3 linked regions of the Homo sapiens genome follow. The protein of the gene in region 1 interacts with the protein of each later gene in a pairwise test. Each region holds a gene or a part of one and is shown in the gene's direction. Other genes may lie near its edges.

Evidence for each region.
Region 2: the proteins of ZBTB17 (region 1) and MAGEA4 interact in binary tests that used the Homo sapiens proteins (3 or more experiments, as listed by UniProt).
Region 3: the proteins of ZBTB17 (region 1) and ITGB5 interact in a two-hybrid assay, tested with the Homo sapiens proteins (one study listed by BioGRID).

Annotation. Positions count from the first base shown.
Region 1 is NC_000001.11:15,945,024-15,952,122, reverse strand, and holds part of ZBTB17 (zinc finger and BTB domain-containing protein 17), read left to right. Parts: intron 1-1,760; exon of another isoform or gene 1,761-2,192; intron 2,193-3,625; 5' UTR 3,626-3,627; coding exon 3,628-3,832; intron 3,833-4,999; coding exon 5,000-5,188; intron 5,189-5,806; coding exon of another isoform or gene 5,807-5,828; coding exon 5,829-5,969; intron 5,970-6,282; coding exon 6,283-6,408; intron 6,409-6,920; coding exon 6,921-7,099. UniProt on the Homo sapiens protein: Transcription factor that can function as an activator or repressor depending on its binding partners, and by targeting negative regulators of cell cycle progression.
Region 2 is NC_000023.11:151,908,695-151,915,888, forward strand, and holds the start of MAGEA4 (melanoma-associated antigen 4), read left to right. Parts: upstream 1-4,194; 5' UTR 4,195-4,275; intron 4,276-6,815; exon of another isoform or gene 6,816-6,943; intron 6,944-7,194. UniProt on the Homo sapiens protein: Regulates cell proliferation through the inhibition of cell cycle arrest at the G1 phase. Also negatively regulates p53-mediated apoptosis.
Region 3 is NC_000003.12:124,842,366-124,849,365, reverse strand, and holds part of ITGB5 (integrin beta-5 isoform a precursor), read left to right. Parts: intron 1-807; coding exon 808-1,057; intron 1,058-7,000.

The DNA of each region.
Region 1 (7,099 bases):
ATTTTCTATGGTTCTAAGGTTTTAGGATCTTCCTTAGAAGTTGCTTTAACTAGTGCACATATTTATCGCCCATCACGCAAGGTGAAGACAAGACCACAGACCTTGACACTTGTGCTTGAGCGATGGGCACCGTATTCCAAGGGTGGGGTGGGGCAGGCTGCCTGGTGGGAACAGTATTTCTTCACCCTGTGTTCCCGCACATCTGGGGGCGATGGGGAGCAGCTGGCTGTTGATCTGATTACTGTGGTTAACGTCTCCCCAGACAGCACCTCCTAGCACGTACTTAGGAGGGGATATGTTCCTAGGACCTGCACACCCCTTCGCTCCCAAACCCTTTTCCTATGTCCCTCCAAGCCTGGCCGTCCTGCTGGGTTCCTGTCGCTGAGGAATAGATAAGAGGGGAACTAGGATACAGGCTGGTGATCCCTCCAGAGCAGTTCACGTGGGTTGGAGGTGGGGGACTGCCTAGTTCTAGCTCAGCCCCTCAGAGGGAAGGACCCAGCCGGCCATGCCTCCGTCTCGCCACGGGCCTTGAGAGAGGGGCTGTTAAAGCTTCCCGGCTGGGGAACAGCCTGGGGGACCCTGAGCTCCACTTGCCCTGTGAGGGTGGGGCTTCGGTTGTAAAGTCCACAGTGACACAGTTCTGCGGGTAACACCATTTAGCACTTAGTCCGCCCCCTCCTGGCCCCCTCGAGCTGCTCTTGCACCCCTGGGAGGCCAGTCCCAGATTGTACTGGTAAGCGCATTTCAGCTGCTGCTGATCTCTCTGTGGGTACAGGGCCCCTCCCTCCCTCCCTCTCTCCCTTCCTTCCTTCCTTCTTCTCTCTCCTTTCCTTCCCTTACTTTGCCCATCTTCACTTCTTCCTCCCCCCTTCTTATCATTTCTCCTGTTTTCTTCCCTTTTGGTGCGTTTCTCTGCTGGGGCAGCCTCAGAGGATTATAGACGCCTCTGTTTCTCCTCCTAACACCCGTGTGTGGGAGGAGCCCACTTCTGGGCGGGCATCTTGCATTGGAAAAGTGCAGTCAGCACGGTGGAAAATGTTGCTCATGGGCACACAGCTGCTCTCTTGGCGGGTGGTGGTATGTGGGGGGCTGGGCCACCACCCACCCTGTCCTTGGGGCCTTTACTATTTTATTATCTAGCGAATGTGTCTTATCTAATCTATCTAGCTTACCCATCCATCCATCCATCCAGTCCCAGGACAGCTGTATGGCTGGGCGGGGCTGCGCTTGCCAGGAAGCCCCAGGGCACATGGCCACAGGGAGGCTCATCCCAGCCTTGGGCCCACACAAGGGGATTGATCCTGTCCCTCCCCTTGGCTAGGAGTCTCCTCACATGTCTCTTCCCGGCAAGTCAGATGGTTTTCCTGCTAGAGGGTTCTTTGTACCTCTGGGGGTTCAGCTGATGCTCCCCAGGTTGTTTTAGCACCTGGGTGGCTCAAGTTTCGGGTTGGCTCCTGGGGAAGGTGAGGAAGCCAGGCACACAGCCTGGAGAGAAGGGTTGGGCCTCACTTGCAAGTTCCAGATGGGCTGCTTCTGAAGCCAGTTGAGGATTTTGCCCTGTGTGGGCCCTGGTATTCCCCTCTTCTGCACTTGGGGCTCCTGGGTATGTAGGGGGTGACTAGCAATTGAGGCCCAGGGCTTGCCACCCACACACCTGTGTGCTCACGTGACCTTTTCCACAGCCAGGAGAAGACAGCTCTAGGGTTGCCGTGGCCTGGGCCCACCTCGCCCCTGCCTTTGGTTCCTTCTGCACCCACCTTGCCCTTTGTGCCCTTCAGGTCTTGATCCACAAGCTGGACATTGGTGCCTCCCCATGTCCAGTGCATAGGAGCAGCGCAGCCACGATTCTCCCTTGCGTTCCTTCAGGTCACAGATAGGAACCTGCTGCTTCCAGGGACTGAGGACAGGAGAGAAAGGCCTCTGTGCTTTGCTCCAGGTGGCCGTGTGCTGCTGCCAGCCACTTGGTGCACTTGGTGCGGGGCCAGCTGCCCCAGGGCCTTACCTCCTGATTTCGGGGCTGGCCCTGGCTCTCCAGTGCTTACACTTAGGGCTCTAGCCACAGCCATTTAGGAATGTCATTGAGAGAGCCAAAGCCTGCGCGGGGATGTGTAGGGGGAGGGAACAGCTGTTTCTGGGCCTCTGGCAGCAGCAGCAACGCTGAACTTGTGGCTCGGAGGCTGGTGCGCTGTGGCTCATGCCTGTTGCCACTGCCATGCTCCCCGTTATTTGTTGCGTCACTTCCCCCCGCTCAGCAGATACCCCCACTTGTGAAAAGTTTCCAGACATCACGTGGTGGGAGGCCTTGGCGCCCTTCAAGGCCGACCTGTGCTGGTGTGAGGGGCGTGGCTTCCTCCGGACTCATCACAGCCCGACAGCCATGCATGGCCACAGCAGCTTCAGAGCTGCGGCAGTGATTCACCCCCCAAGATGCTGATGTCACAGGGGAGTGCCTGAGCCGGGGCAGAGCTGCCGAAACTGGGGGCGGAGAGCCCCAAAGTGTCCCTCTCACCTGCCCAGAAGCCGGGGAGCCAGCCCCGTGCAGACTCAGGCCTCAGAGAAGAGGAGGAGTAGGCAGAGAACTCACTACCCCTTAGCAGATCCTGGGCCAGGGCGTGACAGCCGTGCCCAGTTGAATCTGTCTAATGTGGCCCCAGACAGTGGGTGTTGATTTTTCTCTTCAAACATTCTGAAATGGGTTCTTTCTAGAAAAGAGGGCCCGCTTATTTTCCCTAGACAATTGCTGATGTTGACGCCCACTCTGGGTGGTGTTGGGGCGGGAGGGAGAGCTGTTTTAGATAGTTACTTAGTCACGGCTTGTGCGGTTCAAGACTGCTCGGCACTGGGCCATGGAATTTTCCTGAGCATTTTCACTTGTGGGATTTCCAGGCATTAAGTGAGGCCCTTGACAGAGAAGTTGTGGCCAGGTCAGCAGCTCTTGGGGTCAGGATCAAAGTTGTTTCTCCTGGGATGGCCACCAGGACACAGGTTTCTGGAGTCAGAAGACTCCGCAACTCTAGGTAGTTCCCATGAATCAGAAAGAGAGGGAGAGCTAGGCTTTGTCGGGGGATGGGGTACGTGCAGAGCCTGAGAGGGGCCGAGTTCTGCAACACTGGCTGATGAAACACCGTCTTGTCTTCACCTGTCCATGAGAGAATGAGAAAATAGGAAAGTTTTCTTAAAGACCAACATGTCCAATTGAAACATCTGTCCTTTATTCTGAGATTGTCATGCATTCTTTTTGTAACAAATGTTAAAGTGACCATGTCGTTTCATTTTTGAAATGATGACACATTTCAGTGTTCTGTATTTGTTCCCTTTTTTGGCTTTTTCATGTTATTATCAGGCTGAATACGGAGGCGGCTGCCTCGTGTTGGTGCCCCAGTGCTTTTTGGTTTGGGCCACTTTTCCTGGACAGTAAACCCAGGAATACAGGAGCCACCAGTTGGTTGAGTTTGGCTTGCAGGGGGTATCTGGACTGAACTGCCCTTTTGTGGCAGAAATGCCCTCACTTGTTTTAATTCTGTCTTCTCCATGGTGCTCGCCTGGGACTTTAGGAGTGACTGTTGAGCGTGTCTGACGTCCTTTCTCCGTGCTAACCCCAACGCCCTTTGGCTTTCTTCAGCCATGGACTTTCCCCAGCACAGCCAGCATGTCTTGGAACAGCTGAACCAGCAGCGGCAGCTGGGGCTTCTCTGTGACTGCACCTTTGTGGTGGACGGTGTTCACTTTAAGGCTCATAAAGCAGTGCTGGCGGCCTGCAGCGAGTACTTCAAGATGCTCTTCGTGGACCAGAAGGACGTGGTGCACCTGGACATCAGTAACGCGGCAGGTACCCCGTCAGGGCTGGGGCTGAGCTTGCTGATAGCCAGAAGCTATGGCCGGCCCTGTGCCATGCTAGGCCCTCCAGGGGCAGCACCTGCAGGCTGTGGGATGCAACAGGCCTCCCGCACAGGCTTCAGGCCATGAGCAATTCAGTACTAAGTTCCTCCCACCTTTTGGGGGCCTGTTTTGATTGGTAGTGGAGTGGTAAGGGGAGAACGGGCAGGAAGGGCTCATGATGAGCTCTAGGCCGCAGTGAACACAGGAAAGGCCTCATTGGGAGGGGCAGAGAGTAGGCAGGCTCTATGCCCTCTGGCCCCTTTCCGTGGCAGAGTCAGTCCTGAAGCATCTACCCCAGTGCTAACTAGAAGCGTGGGGAGAGGTGATGGGGAAGGCCTAGGGGCTGGGAGCAGTGTCAGGAAGACCTTGGGGTTGTGGAAGGAACTGGTCCTGGATTCAGACTCCCAACCCAGACTGACGTGACATGCCATGAGAAGGTATTATTCTCCCATTTTATAGATGTGGAAACTGAGACCCAAAGAGGTCAGTGACTGGCCTGGAGGTCAGTCAGATAGAGAGTTGGTAGCAGAGCCCTGATGAAAGTCAGGTTGGAGTGTCCTCCACTGGTGAAGTGTAGCGGCCAAATAAGAGGGTGTGGAGGGCAGGTGTTCACAACATCCGTCCTCAATGCAGGGTGGGCATTCACACCTCTGTCCTCATCCAGGGCAGGCATTCACACTCTGTCCTCCCTGCAGGATGGGCATTTATACCCCCGTCCTCTGTGCAGGGTGCATATTCACACCTCCTTTTCTCCATGCATGGGCGGCATTCACAGCCCATCCTCCTCCATGCAGGGCGGACAGTTGCACCTTCTGTTCCCTGTGCAGTGTGGGCATTCACACCTCCTGTCCTCTGTGCAGGGTGGGCGTTCACACCTTTTGTTCTCTGTGCAGGGCAGGCATTCAGACCCTCAGCGAGCACTTCTTTTCAAGGGCTGTTGGTAGTGCTGAGATCCCCCAGGTTACCTGCCTCCTCTCCACAGAGGAGATGGGGCGATGCAGGCTTGCCACTCAGCTGTTCCTAAATCCCTGCGTCCTGCTGCTGAGTGGAGTGGTGGGGCAGGCTGCCGGTGCCGGATCTTGAGGTGGGTCTGTGACAGCTGTCCTGTCCTTGGTAGGCCTGGGGCAGGTGCTGGAGTTTATGTACACGGCCAAGCTGAGCCTGAGCCCTGAGAACGTGGATGATGTGCTGGCCGTGGCCACTTTCCTCCAAATGCAGGACATCATCACGGCCTGCCATGCCCTCAAGTCACTTGCTGAGCCGGCTACCAGCCCTGGGGGAAATGCGGAGGCCTTGGCCACAGAAGGTAGGTTATTGGCAGCTGCTCCCAAGCAGATGGCCAGAGACCTTGGCTTTTGATGTGGGCTCTGCCTCTGACTTTCTGGGTCTCAGTTTCCTCATCTGGCCCTGCCTCGGTTGTGGGTGCTGGCAAGGGTTAGCCTCAGGTCTGAGGGTGGCCTCTCTGCCTGCCTTTCCCCTACAGAGCACCCGGGAGCCGTGCCTGGTTCAGTGCCTTTGCACACGGGCAGGCTCCTAAACCCTCCTGCGGGTCTGTTCTCCTGAGCCCCTCCTTCCACTTCCCTTAGCTGCTAAGATAAAAGCCCTCAGATGCCCACTATGGGCCAGGTGCCTTGCTGTAGACTTCCAGAGGCTGCGTTCCTCCCTTTCCTAGTGCTGACCTCTGATCAGCTCCCTTAGTGCACACATGGGGTCTGCATGTCCCACACAAGCAGGAACCATCACTGTTGTATTCCCAGTGCCCAGCCATCAGCCTGGCATGGAGTGGGTGCCCTGTGAATAATTTGGTGAATGAACAAATCAGCAAACCACTACTTAGAGGTACCCTAGGGAGGACGAGGAAGACCTAGCAAGTTCTGGGCCACCTCACACCTCCAGATGGCGGGCACTTGATGGGAAACGGCAGGTCTGCCCTGTTCCATCTCCAGGAGGGGACAAGAGAGCCAAAGAGGAGAAGGTGGCCACCAGCACGCTGAGCAGGCTGGAGCAGGCAGGACGCAGCACACCCATAGGCCCCAGCAGGGACCTCAAGGAGGAGCGCGGCGGTCAGGCCCAGAGTGCGGCCAGCGGTGAGTCAGATGCCAAGGACCCAGCCGGCTGTCCTGTCACCTCCCAGCAGCCTGGGCACAGGGTAGTGAGGGCTGCCTTGGGGCAGGTAGCACGGGCACCTGCACCTCTTGAGCCTGTGTTACCCAGAATGACCTATTGTGTGTTCCAGGGGGTCTGTTTCAACCAGAGCAGACACAACAGCCTTGGCTAGGGGTGTGCTGGGGCCTCCCCTCCTGGGTCACACGCAGCCACCACCAGCGCGCTGGTCCAGGAGAGGTATCCGACCCCTGGGCAGAGGGTAGCAATCCAGCCTCCGGTGCTTCCCCCACCCAGGTGCAGAGCAGACAGAGAAAGCCGATGCGCCCCGGGAGCCGCCGCCTGTGGAGCTCAAGCCAGACCCCACGAGTGGCATGGCTGCTGCAGAAGCTGAGGCCGCTTTGTCCGAGAGCTCGGAGCAAGGTAGCCCCGCCCAGCCAGGACCAGGCCCTACCTGGTGCATCCTCCCAGGGCCCTGCCTCCACTGCGCACTGGGGCCTCCCTCTCCTCCTGCCTCCAGCTAGTCCCACCTGGAGTCACCATGCACTTCAGCTTTGGGACACCTTGGTCTTCGCATGTTCTTGAGTCTCGAGGTCGTTCCTTGGTTGACCATGCTAGCCGTGTGTCTGTGAGCACAGGCACGTCCTTCAAAGCCCTGGAGCTTCTGCTGCTTCCCGGCTTTCAGCACCGTGCAGGGGTGCCTTGCCACCCACGGCAACCCTCCAGTGCCTGCTGGCCGACAGCGCCCACCCCAGCTGGCTAAGCCCCCTACCTGCATCCCGCAAGCAGCAAATACCCAGTTCACAGGCCCCCCCGGGGGCTTTCCTTGGCCAGTGCTGGGGCCATTTACTGTCCCTTCCACATGTTGCCGGCGCCCCTCACGTGCGCTCAGGCAGAGAGGGCTGCCGCCTCCATGCTTGCCCTTTTCTCCGCAGAAATGGAGGTGGAGCCCGCCCGGAAAGGGGAAGAGGAGCAAAAGGAGCAAGAGGAGCAAGAGGAGGAGGGCGCAGGGCCAGCTGAGGTCAAGGAGGAGGGTTCCCAGCTGGAGAACGGAGAGGCCCCCGAGGAGAACGAGAATGAGGAGTCAGCGGGCACAGACTCGGGGCAGGAGCTC
Region 2 (7,194 bases), on another chromosome or scaffold:
AGATGTATTTCATTTGGTGAATGGATTAAAAAACACGTAGATTAAAAAAACAGAATAGAGCCCCAACATAGACCTGCACACATACAATCAAGTGATTTATAACAAAAGCAATAAAGGTGAAAGTATAGTTGTTCCAACAATTGGTACATGAACAACTGGGTATCTAAACAAAAATAATAATAATAACCTAGACAAATCCTTAGGTATTTCACGAAATTAACTCAAAATACATCATAGACCTAATGCAAAATGCAAAAACTATACAACTTCTATAAGAAAACATGAGAAAATTTACATAACTTTGTTTGTTAAAGAGCTTTTAAATTAAACACCAAAAGCAAAAGTAGCAATGAGCACACCTAGCACCCAGAAGTAGATTTCTAGAACCATTTCCCATTAAAAGGAACCAGATATTTGGAGAAATGGCTTATTTATGACTGGGGCAGGGCATAAACCTGACGAGCCTGGGCCATTTTGCAGCCCTAGAAATTAAGGGCTAGAGAATATGATAAAGGACATTACAGTGTTGCAAATCCAGACTATGGAAAACTGGAAAGAACATAAGATATGTTTCTTTCCAACAACGAAGCGATGGCAAGAAAACAGATCATGTGGAGGGGACCTACAGGTGAGAGAAGATTTAATTACAAAAAATCACTATGTAATACTATTTTTGGGTACTCATCCAAATAAACAAATTTTTATAAAGTATAAGTCTTCTAGATAAGTGCATAAAACAGTTGAACATTTCATAATCATTTATTTATTTTTTAGAAATGAGAATTGTATTGGGTTTTTATTTGTAGTGATTGTGACCCAGAGGTGACTACAATCACGGGTGCTGCAGCCACCCAGGGAACACCTCGCCTGGTACCTGCAGCCATTCTCTGCGAGGGGTACAGCTGGGTACAATGTCCTTGTCTTTTAAAAATGAATATTGAATTATTTAGAGATGAAATGGTATGCTGTCTTTGATTTGATCCACATTATTCCAGCAGCTGAGATGCAGGTAGGTGAGTGTCTAACTGGAACCAGATTTGCCGTGTATTTAAGGTTGTTGATGCTGAGCGTCAGGTATGCTGGGTTCATTATGTTAGTCTCTCTATTATTCTATATGTGTGAGGCTTCCCTGATAAAAAAACGTTTTTTGTCATAAATATCATGCCATTAAAAATGAAATCCTAAATGATCCAACTATTTTGTAGAAATAAAATAAACAAATGACCAAATTGATCCAAAAAGAAAACTTCAATTAAACGACACAAACTGAAACTATACAATATTCAAAGCTCAAGCCATCCTCAAACGTCCCAGGTTAGTCGGTTTCGGAGGCTGATTCCACCAAATGATCAAGGAAAACTAACCATCATCTTATCTCAACTCTTCAAAGCACGCAAAATATAGACAATTCTTCAATTCATTCTCCCAGATTAACCCTTCTGGATTCAAAAATCAGATGAGGACCACCCCCCACTCCCGATGGAAAAAACACATAAACAAGCTCTCTTACATAGCAGCAAATATCTTATGTAAATTAGTAGAATATTAAATGAACAAACAAGCTCTACCCAAGGAAAGAAAATATGATTTAACATTAGAAAAAAAAGTTTCATTGTAATTTTTTACACACAAAATAGAGGAGAAAAAATTTATCACATCAATGGGTACAGGAAAAGCTTTTGGAAGAAATTCAATATGAGTTCATGGTAAAAATATTTAGTTAACCTATATTGAAAGAGAACATACATTTCCTAAAATCAACAGCAAACAAATTTAAGAAGTTCAAAGAATTATCATTAAAGGCAGGAACACGAAGTAGATGTAGGCTATTATCTCTACGTTTTAAATCATCATTGAGACACAAAGTCAGAGCTATAAGTATCATAATAAATAAGGGGCATGAATATAGGAAAAATACATAATGTTTAGTGATAATACCCTTATCATTCTTGAAAATTCAAAGAAAAAGGCATGTGGAATATTCAAGTCAATGGGTTTTCAGAATGAGGTGTACAACAGATTACTATAGCAAAATCAAATTCTCTGCCACACAATAGCAATAACTATTAGAGTTAATTAATTTCCATTAATTAGAACAATTAATAGAAAATATGCCATTTGCAATAGCAACAAAATCCAAGAATTACCAAAAAAGAAGCCTAAGAAAAATGTGTAAGGTCTTTCTAGAGGAAACTATCAAAGTATACTGACAGATTCAGGTAAAAGGAGTTTGAAATAAGTAAAGGAGCATAACCTATTCATTGATCAGGAGCAGAACATTGTAAAAATGTCAATTCTGCTTAAATGATTTACAATTTAGTGTCTTACCTGTAGCTGCCAAAAATTACAGTCACACTTAGGCTGCTGTTCTCTGGTTCCCAAATCAACTCTGGAAAATTATAGAAGAGAAAAAGAAAGAAAGAAAAAACAACAATATAAGCAATAAAATCTAAGCAACAAAACACAGAAAGTCCTGGGTGAGACTGAGGACTGTGTTGAACTGGTACTTATGTTTGGGGCGGTGTCAGTTGGAGGGGGGTTGGCTGCAGGGATGTTGAAGTCTATAGCCTGCCTAGACGTCAGATGACAGAATGAATAGGATGAACATTTTAAAATCTCCACCTCACTGCACTGCACAATCTGAGGCAGCACCTCAAAACACGATTCCAGTAACCCTAGGGTAATAGCAGGACAGCAGGAAAATTGGGTTGGTTAAGGCAGTATGGTTCCGGAGATCTGCTAATTACAACCTGAAACCAACTTAGTGGATGAGGATTAGCATTATTATTATTATTATTATTAATATTATTATTATTATTATTATTGAGACTGTCGCCCGGGCTGGAGTGCAATGACTCGATCTTGGCTCACTGCAACCTCCGCCTACCAGGTTCAAGCGATTCTCCTGCCTCAGCCTCCCAAGTAGCTGGGATTATAGGCGCCCACCACCACGCCCAGCTAATTTTTTAATTTTTTTTCTATATTTAGTGAAGACAGTGTTTCACCCTGTTGGCCAGGCTGGTCTCGAAAAGAATTATTTTAACAGAACATAAACAATGGAATAGAAGTTGAATAGGGTATCAGAGTGAATCATGCAAACTAAGGGTAGGTATTCTTTCATAGAAATAAATATATATGTTGCTACCTATATATATCCTTGGAAGATATGTAAAATATATTTCTTTGAGGAAAAAAGGTTTCCAAAGTCCAGCTCTGGCTGGGGAGGAGCCCCCGTGGGAAGGCGTGCATCTTCTCACAGAGGTCACTACAATAACGGGTGCTGCAGCCACCCAGGGAACACCTCGCCTGGTACCCGCAGCCATTTTCTGCAAGGGGTACAGCTGGGCAAATGCTCAGAGGTGAGAGAAAAAGAGCATCTCCAACCCATCACTTCAACAAAGAGCCAGGACCCAGGAAGAGGACCCTCCTGAGTGAAGACTGAGGGTAAACCCCCGCTCAAAGAGGGGCCACAGAATCCAGCTTAGTCCCTCCTGTCAGCCCTGGAAGACCCCAGCGGCTTTGTCGCCCAAGGACACCTCTCCCCCCACTGTGACCTCAGGGGACTAGGAGTCAGAACCTTGGTCTGAGGGGAGCAGACACCATCCGCAGAGAACAGGGGTCCAGGCTATGCCAGGAATCAAAGGACTGAGGGGCACGCCTACCTCAACCCCTAACCCCAGGACCTCTCGCCTCCTCCCCCACCCCAACTCCCACCCTGGCCGAATCCGGTTCCACCCCTGCTGTCAACCCAGGTGGCCCGGATGTGACATCCCTGACTTGCGCATTGGTCTGACCAGCAACTCGAGATCCACGGAGGGAAGCAGGCGCAGGCTCTGTGAGGAGGCAAGGTGGGGGCAGGCTGTGCCAGGCGTCAAAGTCAGGACCCTAAGAGAGAGCTGAGGGTTCCCCACCCCCATTCCTATCCCCCACCCCATTCCCATTCCCTTCCACACTCCTAACCCAATCCACACCCTCATCCCCTACCAGCACCCCATCCTCCCCAACCCCGTGCCACCCTCATACCCCCATCCCCAATTCAACCCCCGCACCCTCATCCCCCACCCCACACCTGCACCCCCACCCCCCAACACCCATACCCCCATCCAGGCAGGATCCCCGGTTCCGCCCCCGCTTTCAACCAAGGAAAGCCCCAGCTGCCCGGATGTGATGCCACTGACTTGCGCACTGGGGGTTAGAGACAAGCGAGCTTCTGCGTCTGACTCGCAGCTTGAGACTGGCGGAGGGAAGCCCGCCCAGGCTCTATAAGGAGACAAGGTGAGATGCTGAGGGAGGACTCAGGAGGACCCCCACCCCACATAGACGACCACAAAAAATCCAACACCACCCCTGCTGCCAGCCCTGGGCCACTCCTGGAGACTTCTCAGTCTGTGGTGGGGGGGCCACCACCCCACTGCCACTTAAGCCTCAGGGGATTCTGAAGTCAGAGCTTGGGGTGATCAGTGCAAGACTGGTGGGGGCAGGCTCTGCCAGGCATCAACCTCAGGACCCTAAAAGCCAGCTGAGCGTACCACACCGCTATTCCCATCCCGCAACCCCATTCCCATCCCCTAACCCCTTCCCATTCCCATTCGCACTCACAAACCCATCTACACTCCCATCCTCCACCAGCTCCCCATCCTCCCAAACACCCCACCACCTTCATACCGCCATCTCCCACCCCCAAAAACCCGCCCCCTCCACCGACCTCACCCCTCCCACCCCCATCCACGCTGAATCGGGTTGCGCTCCCTCTTTCAACCCAAGAAAGCCCCAGGGGCCCGGATGTGATGCCACTGACTTGCGCATTGGGGGTTAGAGAGAAGCGAGCTGCTCTGTCTGACCAGCAGCTTGGGATTGGCGGAGGGAAGCGGGCCAGGCCCTGTGAGGAGTCAAGGTGAGACGCTGAGGGAGGACTCAGGAGGCCCCCACCCCAGATAGATGACCCCAAATAATCCCGCACCACTCCTGCTACCAGCCGTGGGCCACCCGTGGGCGGACTTCTGAGTCTGGGGCGCCCACCACCCCACTGCCTCTGAAGTTGCAGGGGACTCTGGAGTCAGAGCTTGGGTTGATTAGTGTAAGACTAGTGAGGGCAGGCTCTGCCAGGCATGGACCTCAGCACCCTAAGAGAGGGCTAAGCGTACCCCACCCCTATTCCCATCCCCCACCACGTCCCCTTTCCGATTACCATTTGCACTCCCAAACCATCCACGCCCCCATCCCCCACCAGCACTCCTCTCCTCTTCAACCCCCCACCTCTCTCATACCGCCATCTCCCACCCCAACAACCCGGGCCCTTCTACCAACCTCACCCCTCCCACCCCCATCCACACTGAATCACGTTCCGCTTCCGCTTTCAACCCACCCCCAAAAACCCGCCCCCTCCATCGACCTCACCCCTCCCACCCCCATCCACGCTGAATCTGATTTCCGCTTCCTCTTTCAACCCAAGAAAGCCCCAGGGGCCCGGATGTGATGCCACTGACTTGCGCATTGGGGGTTAGAGAGAAGCGAGCTGCTCTGTCTGACCAGCAGCTTGGGATTGGCGGAGGGAAGCGGGCCAGGCCCTGTGAGGAGTCAAGGTGAGACGCTGAGGGAGGACTCAGGAGGCCCCCACCCCAGATAGACGACCCCAAATAATCCCGCACCACTCCTGCTACCAGCCGTGGGCCACCCGTGGGCGGACTTCTGAGTCTGGGGCGCCCTCCACCCCACTGCGTCTGAAGTCGCATGGGACTCTGGAGTCCGAGCTTGGGGTGGTTAGTGTAAGACTAGTGAGGGCAGGCTCTACGAGGCATCAACCTCAGGACCCTAAGAGAGGGCCAAGCGTACCCCACCCCTATTTCTATCCCCCACCGCCTCCCCTTTCCCATTACTATTTGCACTCCCAAACCCATCCGCGCCCCTATCCCCCACCAGCACTCCTATCCTCAACCCCGCACCTCTCTCACACCGCCATCTCCCACCCCAAAAACTGGGGCCCCTCCACCAACCTCACCCCTCCCACCCCCATGGATGCTGAATTGGGTTGCGCTTCCGCTTTCAACCCACCCCCAAAAACCCGCCCCCTCCACCGACCTCACCCCTCCCACCCCCTTCCACGCTGAATCGGGTTTCCGCTTCCGCTTTCAACCCAAGAAAGTCCCAGGTGCCCGGATGTGATGCCACTGACTTGCGCATTGGGGGTTAGAGAGAAGCGAGCTGCTCTGACCAGCCGCTTGGGATTGGCGGAGGGAAGCGGGCCAGGCCCTGTGAGGAGTCAAGGTGAGATGCTGAGGGAGGACTCAGGAGGCCCCCACCCCAGATAGACGACCCCAAATAATCCCGCACCACTCCTGCTACCAGCCGTGGGCCACCTGTGGGCGGACTTCTGAGTCTGGGGCGCCCACCACCCCACTGCCTCTGAAGTCGCAGAGGACTCTGGAGTCAGAGCTTAGGGTGTTTAGTGTAAGACTAGTGAGGCCAGGCTCTGCCAGGCATCAATCTCAGGACCGTAAGAGAGGGCTAAGCGTACCCCACCCCTATTCCCATCCCCCATCACGTCCCCTTTCCCATTACCATTTGCACTCCTAAACCCATCCGCGCCCCCATCCCCCACCAGCACTCCTCCTCGACCCCCCACCTCTGTCATACCGCCATCTGCCACCCCAAAAACCGGGGCCCCTCCACCAACCTCACCCCTCCCACCCCCATCCACGCTGAATCGGGTTCCGCTTCCGCTTTCAACCCACTCCCAAAAACCCGCCCCCTCCACCGACCTCCCCCCCACCCCCATCCACGCTGAATCGTGTTTCCGCTTCCGCTTTCAACCCAAGAAAGCCTCAGGGGCCCGGATGTGATGCCACTGACTTGCGCATTGGGGGTTAGAGAGAAGCGAGCTGCTGTCTGACCAGCAGCTTGGGATTGGTGGAAGGAAGCAGGCCAGGCCCTGTGAGGAGTCAAGGTGAGACGCTGAGGAGGACTCAGGAGGCCACCACCCCAGATAGACGACCCCAAATAATCCTGCACCACTCCTACCTGCCGTGGGCCACCTGTGGGCGGACTTCTGAGCTTGGGGCGCCCACCACCCCACTGCCTCTGAAGTCGCAGGGGACTCTGGAGTCAGAGCTTGGGGTGTTTAGTGTAAGACTAGTGAGGCCAGGCTCTGCCGGGCATCAATCTCAGGACCCTAAGAGAGGGCTAAGCGTACCCCAC
Region 3 (7,000 bases), on another chromosome or scaffold:
TTGCCTTGCACATCTCTCTCCCCAACTTGGTTCTTCCCCACTCAGGCCCACACCCCTCTTTTGTTCATTTCTTCCCTGCTTTTTGTTTCAAACGCACATTCCCATCGTGACTGGGTCTTTCTCTGGAGTTGGTATGTGGTTGGTGGGCTACTCTCCACCCAGTTTGTGTTCATGAAATTGTCTGGTTCACTGTCCACTGATTACTCAAGGGTCTTTGTTGCTGAGAAGACAGAACACTACCAAGGAGCCTGGTTGTTAAGGAGTTTCCTTAGAAATGCTAAGCCCAGGCCAGGCGTGGTGGCTCACACCTGTAATCCCAGCACTTTGGGAGGCTGAGGTAGGTGGATCACTTGAGGCCAGGAGTTGGATACCAGCCTGGTCAACATAGTGAAACCCCGTCTCTACTAAAAATGCAAAAATTAGCCAGGCATGGTGGTGGGCACCTGTAATCCCAGCTACTCAGGAGGCTGAGGCATGAGAATCGCTTGAACCTGGTAGGCAGAGGTTGCAGTGAGCCAAGATCGCACCACTGCACTCCAGCCTGGGCGACAGAGCAACACTGTCTCAAAAAAAATAAAATAAAATAAAAAAAGAAGTGCTAAGCCGAATGTTTAGGAAGGAGAACCCAGGCCTCCATTCTCAGCACCGTATTCCCTTCAGGCACTTTACTTCCAAGAAAAATCTTCTGTGAGGCACACAATCACTAAAGAAAAGTAAGAGGCAAACTAGCTTTGAAAGCAAATCCCATCCCTCAGCCCTCAGCAGGTTGCACAACCTCTAACACACGTGGCCTCTCTGTTGGTGCAGGTGACAAGACCACCTTCCAGCTACAGGTTCGCCAGGTGGAGGACTATCCTGTGGACCTGTACTACCTGATGGACCTCTCCCTGTCCATGAAGGATGACTTGGACAATATCCGGAGCCTGGGCACCAAACTCGCGGAGGAGATGAGGAAGCTCACCAGCAACTTCCGGTTGGGATTTGGGTCTTTTGTTGATAAGGACATCTCTCCTTTCTCCTACACGGCACCGAGGTACCAGACCAATCCGTGCATTGGGTAAGTGACCAGTTGCCCTTCTGTTGGGTACTTAAGGGTGGGAGAATGGAGAAGCAGGAAAATTTAGCTCAAAGAAAGAATTAAGGAAGGCATGGTTAGGAGGGGTGGCCAGGCTTAGGCGTTTAATTTGATTAATGATAAGCATACATTCTCTCCTTTCCTGACGTGTGAAGAAGTGAGTGAACTGTCACAAGGTTGTAAAGATAAAATGATCACAACCCCTTGATTTTCCTGCCTGCCATGCACAGCACCATTTGCTCACATTAATAGAATTCAGAAAATGTCCTCAGGGAGTGATGGATCCAGATTATCAGGGAGGCAGCAGGCAGGGCAACTTAAACTTTCCCCTTGCTTGTAGTAACTGAGGTGCTTTGGGAGAAATGAATTCAAAATTTGTCCCTGTTGTTTTTCTATAAATAACTATAACTTATTTTCACATAATTAGATTAAAATCCTATTTTAAATGTAAGAATTTTTTTTTCAACATAAACACCTGAACTAGAAAAGATTTGACATATTATTAGAAAACAGGTGTCTCTAACTGCTGCCAGATTCTATAATAACAAAGTGTATAATGGCTCAAACTTGCTGGAAGTTTATTTCCTGCTCCTCAAGTCCAACTGGGTCTCTTCATCCATGGAACTTCTCCTGCAAGCAGTGACTCAGGGACTCAGGTGCTTTCCATCTTCCAGGCTTTACCATCTTCCACACATGGCTCCTAAGGTCATGCTGCCTAGAGGGTCATGCATAGGAGGATAGGCCTTTGCCATGCCCGCTCCCACATGCTATTAGACGGAACAGGACTGAGCCAGGAGGCTGGGAACTAGTGTAGCTGTAGGCCCAGGAATCAGAAGAAATAGGATTAGTGAGCAGGTCTCTGCCATGGGACGTTTGTATGCATGCTGGGGTGGGTGGTTGTATGAGGGGATTGCATTCTTCAGCCCATGCAACACAACCTCTACTAGGTTGGTTTCTTTTCTTTTTAGTCTTTCAGGAGTTTCTTTAAATGTCAAGATTATGCAAGTGACTGCAGTGAGTGGTAACTTCCAACTCTTGCTTTCCTCATCTCCACATTTAACTTTAGTGAGGGTTTGTGTTGTAAGGTCCAAAACTAGTCATGAGATAGGAAATAACTAAGACTTAAGTTTTTACTAAGTGTCAAGCCCCATACTAAATATTTTCTGTGGATTATCTCATTTAAATCTCATAACAATCTGTTGAGGTCTCTAAGGTAAGTGTAAGCCAGATTTTAGAGATGCAGAAACTGAGGCCTAGAGAGAATAACTTACCCAATATTATACAAACAGCAAGGGGTAGAGCTGGAATATGAATACAGACAAACTACTTTTAGAGTCTGCATTTGCATTTTTTTTTGAGACGGAGTCTTGCTCTGTTGCCCAGGCTGGAGTGCAGTGGTGCAATCTCGGCTCCCTGCAACCTCCGCCTCCCGGGTTCAAGCCGATTCTCCTGCCCCAGTCTCCTGAGTAGCTGAGATTATAGGTGCCTGCCACCACACCTGGCTGATTTTTGTATTTTTAGTAGAGATGGGGTTTCACCATGTTGGCCAGGCTGGTCTTGAACTCCTGACGTCAAGCGACCCATCCACCTCAGCCTCCCAAAGTGCTGGGATTACAGGCATGAGCCACTGCATCCGGCCTGCGTTTGCGTTTAATATAATGTCTTCTTCCCCATTCAAATCACACTACAACACAGACACTTTACCTTAGGCTGAGTAATAATACCTGTCCCTAAACCACCCTACCCCCATGTCCTAGGGGCTTACCTGAGGATCATGGTAGGTTATGCTGCAGTAACGTAGAGTCTCCAAATCTCAGTGGCTCAACACAATGAACGTTTTTTTTTTGTTGGTTTTTTTTTTTTTTGCTTGTGCAACATCTGATGAGGGCTGAGCTGCTTTCCTTGGCAGCTCTCCATGCAGTAACTCAGGGATCCAGCTCCTTCCATCTTGTGATGCCATTCTCAATTCTTGGTCTTCCAGCTGCCACCAAGGGGAGAGAGCTGTTCTTAAATCCCTGAGCCCTCCCCTCTCCACAAGTCCTCTTTGGTAGCCTTCAGAGCTCCTAGCTCCAAGTTGGGCTGGGTGATAGGAGCAAGTTAGTGTGCTGGTGGCATAGGCTCTTCTGAATCCCTCCAGATCCTTCTGTATACTCTCCCAGAAGCTGACTTAGATCTTTTCAGGTATTGGGAACTGACACTGGTGGAAAAACAGACAAGAAAAAGTTTTAAATACAAATGAACTCTAAATTCTTTAACCACGAAGAGGCACTAGGCATCATCATTTGCTGGGTTTAGCTTCCTCCTGGCGACAGGTGGCCACAGGGACTATTACTACTTTGATTCTGTCTCCAAGGCCCTTTTCAGCTAAGTCTGGGTGTCAAATGTTTTTGTTGAAATTTTGCTGCTTACCAGGAGCAACAGCATCTTAACTGCAAGCCTTAAGCCTTTTTTCAATTCATCTGAAATAGTGATTTTATTTGCTTCTTTTCACCTCTGTCCTAATTGGGCCCTGTCTCCAGACAGATAGGGTGTGTCCCCACTTTCATTCTTCCAAGGCCCTTCCACTGACCGAGACACTAGATTGGAAGCTGGCAGAGAATCAAGGGCTGGCTCTAGGCGCTCAGCATTTAAATATTCAAAGTTATGACACATCATTACTTATTCAGAGCTCACTCTCTAAGTCCTCTAAGGCAGAGCCTGTTGCAGACAGTAAAACTCCTGACAGTGAGTACAAGGCACACTGAAAAGCTACTTGTAAGGCAGGAAGTCCAGTGAAGAATGAGAATGTGGAAGGAAACCTCGGGCCTGAGTTATGTGAAGCTCTCTTCTCTGAGCTGGGGAGGCACACGCAGCGTGGGGGCACACTGTGGCTTGGTGAGCAGGCCGAGCTTTGTCTCCCCACGTCCAGGCAGCACGGCATCCTGTGTCTCCTGGGTTCAAGTGATTCTCCTGCCTCAGCCTCCTGAGTAGCTGGTATTACAGGCACGTGCCACCACACCCAGCTAATTTTTGTATTTTTTAGTAGAGATGGGGTTTCACCATGTTGGCCAGGCTGGTCTTGAGCTCCTGACCTCAGGTGATCCACCCACCTCAGCTTCCCAAAGTGCTGAGATTACAGGGGTGGGCCACCACGCCCAGCCTAAAGTATTTTAAATTATTCTGTTTCTGTTTCTTGAATTGTGGATCCTTCAGGTGGATCCACAGCCAGTCAGTGTATTGGACCTGCTGACATGCCTTCATGAATTGTTTTTCATGCAATTTATAAGCTTTTCATTAGCTCTTCCTTGGAGGTTGTGGGGGCATCCCTGCAGAGCAGTTTTATGTTTGCCGTTGTCGAGAATCTCCAGGTTCACCGTGGGACTAGTTTTTCTGTTAATTTTTCAAATGGAGATGTCTTCACCATAAAAGCAGTGTATTCCAATTGCTCAGGCCTGGAGTTACAGTTTTTATGGGTAATTCATCTCATTCATGGTAGATGGTCAGCTTCCGTGCTGCTTTCCTAGACCAGTAGCTGGAGTTTTTCTGTTTCTGGTTTTAGTAGCACAGCAGCTCATTGTGCTGTTCGGCTTTATGCAGACAGCCCTATTCCAGTGTTCAGCCCTCTGCAGGACTGAGGCTCAGCATCTATTCCTGGTAGACCCTGCTCCAAGCCTGTAGGGCCTCAGTCAAGGCCTGACCCATTGCGGGGGTCCTTGGCATGAGTGCCTGCCCATTTCCTACCTTTTTTTTTTGAGACCGAGTCTTGCTCTGTTACTCAGGCTGGAGTGCAGTGGCGGGATCTCAGCTCACTGCAACCTCCACCTCCTGGGTTCAAGTGATTATCCTGACTCAGCCTCCTGAGTAGCTGGGATTACAGGTGCCCACCACCATGCCCAGCTAATTTTTGTATTTTTAGTAGAGATGGCGTTTCACCACGTTGGCCAGGCTGGTCTTGAACTCCTGACCTCAGGTGATCTGCCTGCCTCAGCCTCCTAAAGTGCTGAGATTACAGGCGTGAGCCACTGCACCCAGCCCCCACCTATTCTTTTAAGTCCATTCATTTGTTTTTTGGTGTTTTCTTTTTTTTTTTTTTTTTTTTTTTTTTTGCCAAAACCAAATACTTCTGAAAGGTCCATTCATTTATTGAATGGTTTCCTCTTCGTTTCTGGGATTTACTTTCTAAGCTTCCAGCCTAGGCTATATATTAAAAAATTTTAAATTACATTTTATCCAGCAGTTGTATATGTTTAGAGTTAGAAGAAGCAGATAAGATGTTTTCATTCCTGTTCCATGACATGGAGAGCCTTTCCATGTCAGCTTGATCCATGATATTCTCCTGAGGCATTAGATTGTTTTCTGGATTTGCCTAGGTCTGGTGTCTTCAAATTGGATTCACTTTTTATACATACAGACACTCCCTTGGCTCTTTAACCATATATATTTTATTTTTTATCTCCCTTGTTAATAATCCTTAATTTAGTAACTCTGTATGCATGGCGCTTATTTGGGGTCTCACAGCACAGACACATGAGAGGGGTAGGATAGTCTCCTGGCATGACCCCAGAACGTCCGGATCTTCAGGCCACTCAGACAGCTGCTCTGGGGTTAAGTCAGATAACTCATCACAGGTGACATCCTATTCCAGTGTCAGTGGAGACTCTCCTAGCGTCTGTGTGACAAAGCTCTTTTCCTAAGTGACTCTGACTTGGTTATAGTAAATTCTCTACAATGAAGGCTTCTCTCTGGCAAACACATCTTCTAATTCCTAACTACTTAACAGTCATTCTTTGCAGTAAAAATGTATCTGCTCATTGCTGTTTGCGGGAGTGAAAGGGAGGAGGTAAAACATGCTGAGCTGTAGCTGAGTTTGTCACAGCTTTCCTGGTTAAACAGCAATCATTATTCAGTTTCTTTTCTCCCTGTCCGCAACCAACCGGACCAAGTGTAAAAAAACCACACACCTGAAGTCCTAAATCATGGGCCAGAGCCACATAGGCCAGGGCAGGATCTTGGAGGAAGAGAGAGGGGGAGAGTTTGGATAGACTTACTTCCTTCTGGGCCTATGATCCACTTGCCAAATAGCTACAGATGGGACCTCAGTTCCTTCTTCCAGCTGGGAATGTAATTTCCATGATTGTTCTTTTCATGACAAAATGAGGAGGTAATGGAAAGTTTGGGTGGCCCGAGGCTGAGGTTAAAAGAGAGTTCCACCTGTCCAAGTACAAGGTGTTCATGAAGACTTCGGGAAAGGAGAAGGGAGAAACACAAAGGAAAGCCAGGCAGGGAGATCCCATCGCTGCCGCCGGCCCCGAGAGGGAGAGCGCGACTATCACAGGAGTGGGGCTGATTGATTCTGTGCAGGGTGGGCCTGTTGCTGGGGACTCTGTGCTGTGCTGTTGTGACTGTGTGGATGGAGAAGGGACTGTAGCCCTGAGAGGGAATGGAATAGCCCCTTAGAGAACCAAAGATTGCCCCTTTACAGAAGGGAGCCTGCCCAGACCTGCCCTGGTGAGTCTGCTTTTTGACAGCATTTAAGGCAGGGTCCTCCTAGCTGTTGCTAAGGCTGTTTTCTTTCCCATGTATGCAGCTTGAATTAGATTATAAAGCCTTTCCCTCAGGCCTGTTAGTGCTCGTTTTCCATCATTTATCCTGAAAGAGCGACTTCCTTAACATGGCTGGAGACCCTGCACAGTCTGGCCCAGCCTGCCTCCCAGGCTCCTCCTCGCCCATCCTCACCCGTTACTCTGCACCACAGCCCCCCGACCTCCCTCTGTCCTTGGGCTCTGTGCTCCCTTCTGCCACAGGACTCTTGCACATGCTCTTCTCTGGCTGGGACACTCTCCCCTCTTCCCTTTACTTTGTGAACCCATTGGTAAAACAATATAAGCTCTCTCTTCCAACTTTATTAGTTCTAGATCAAGCTGAAACTCTTAGAGCTGTAATGGA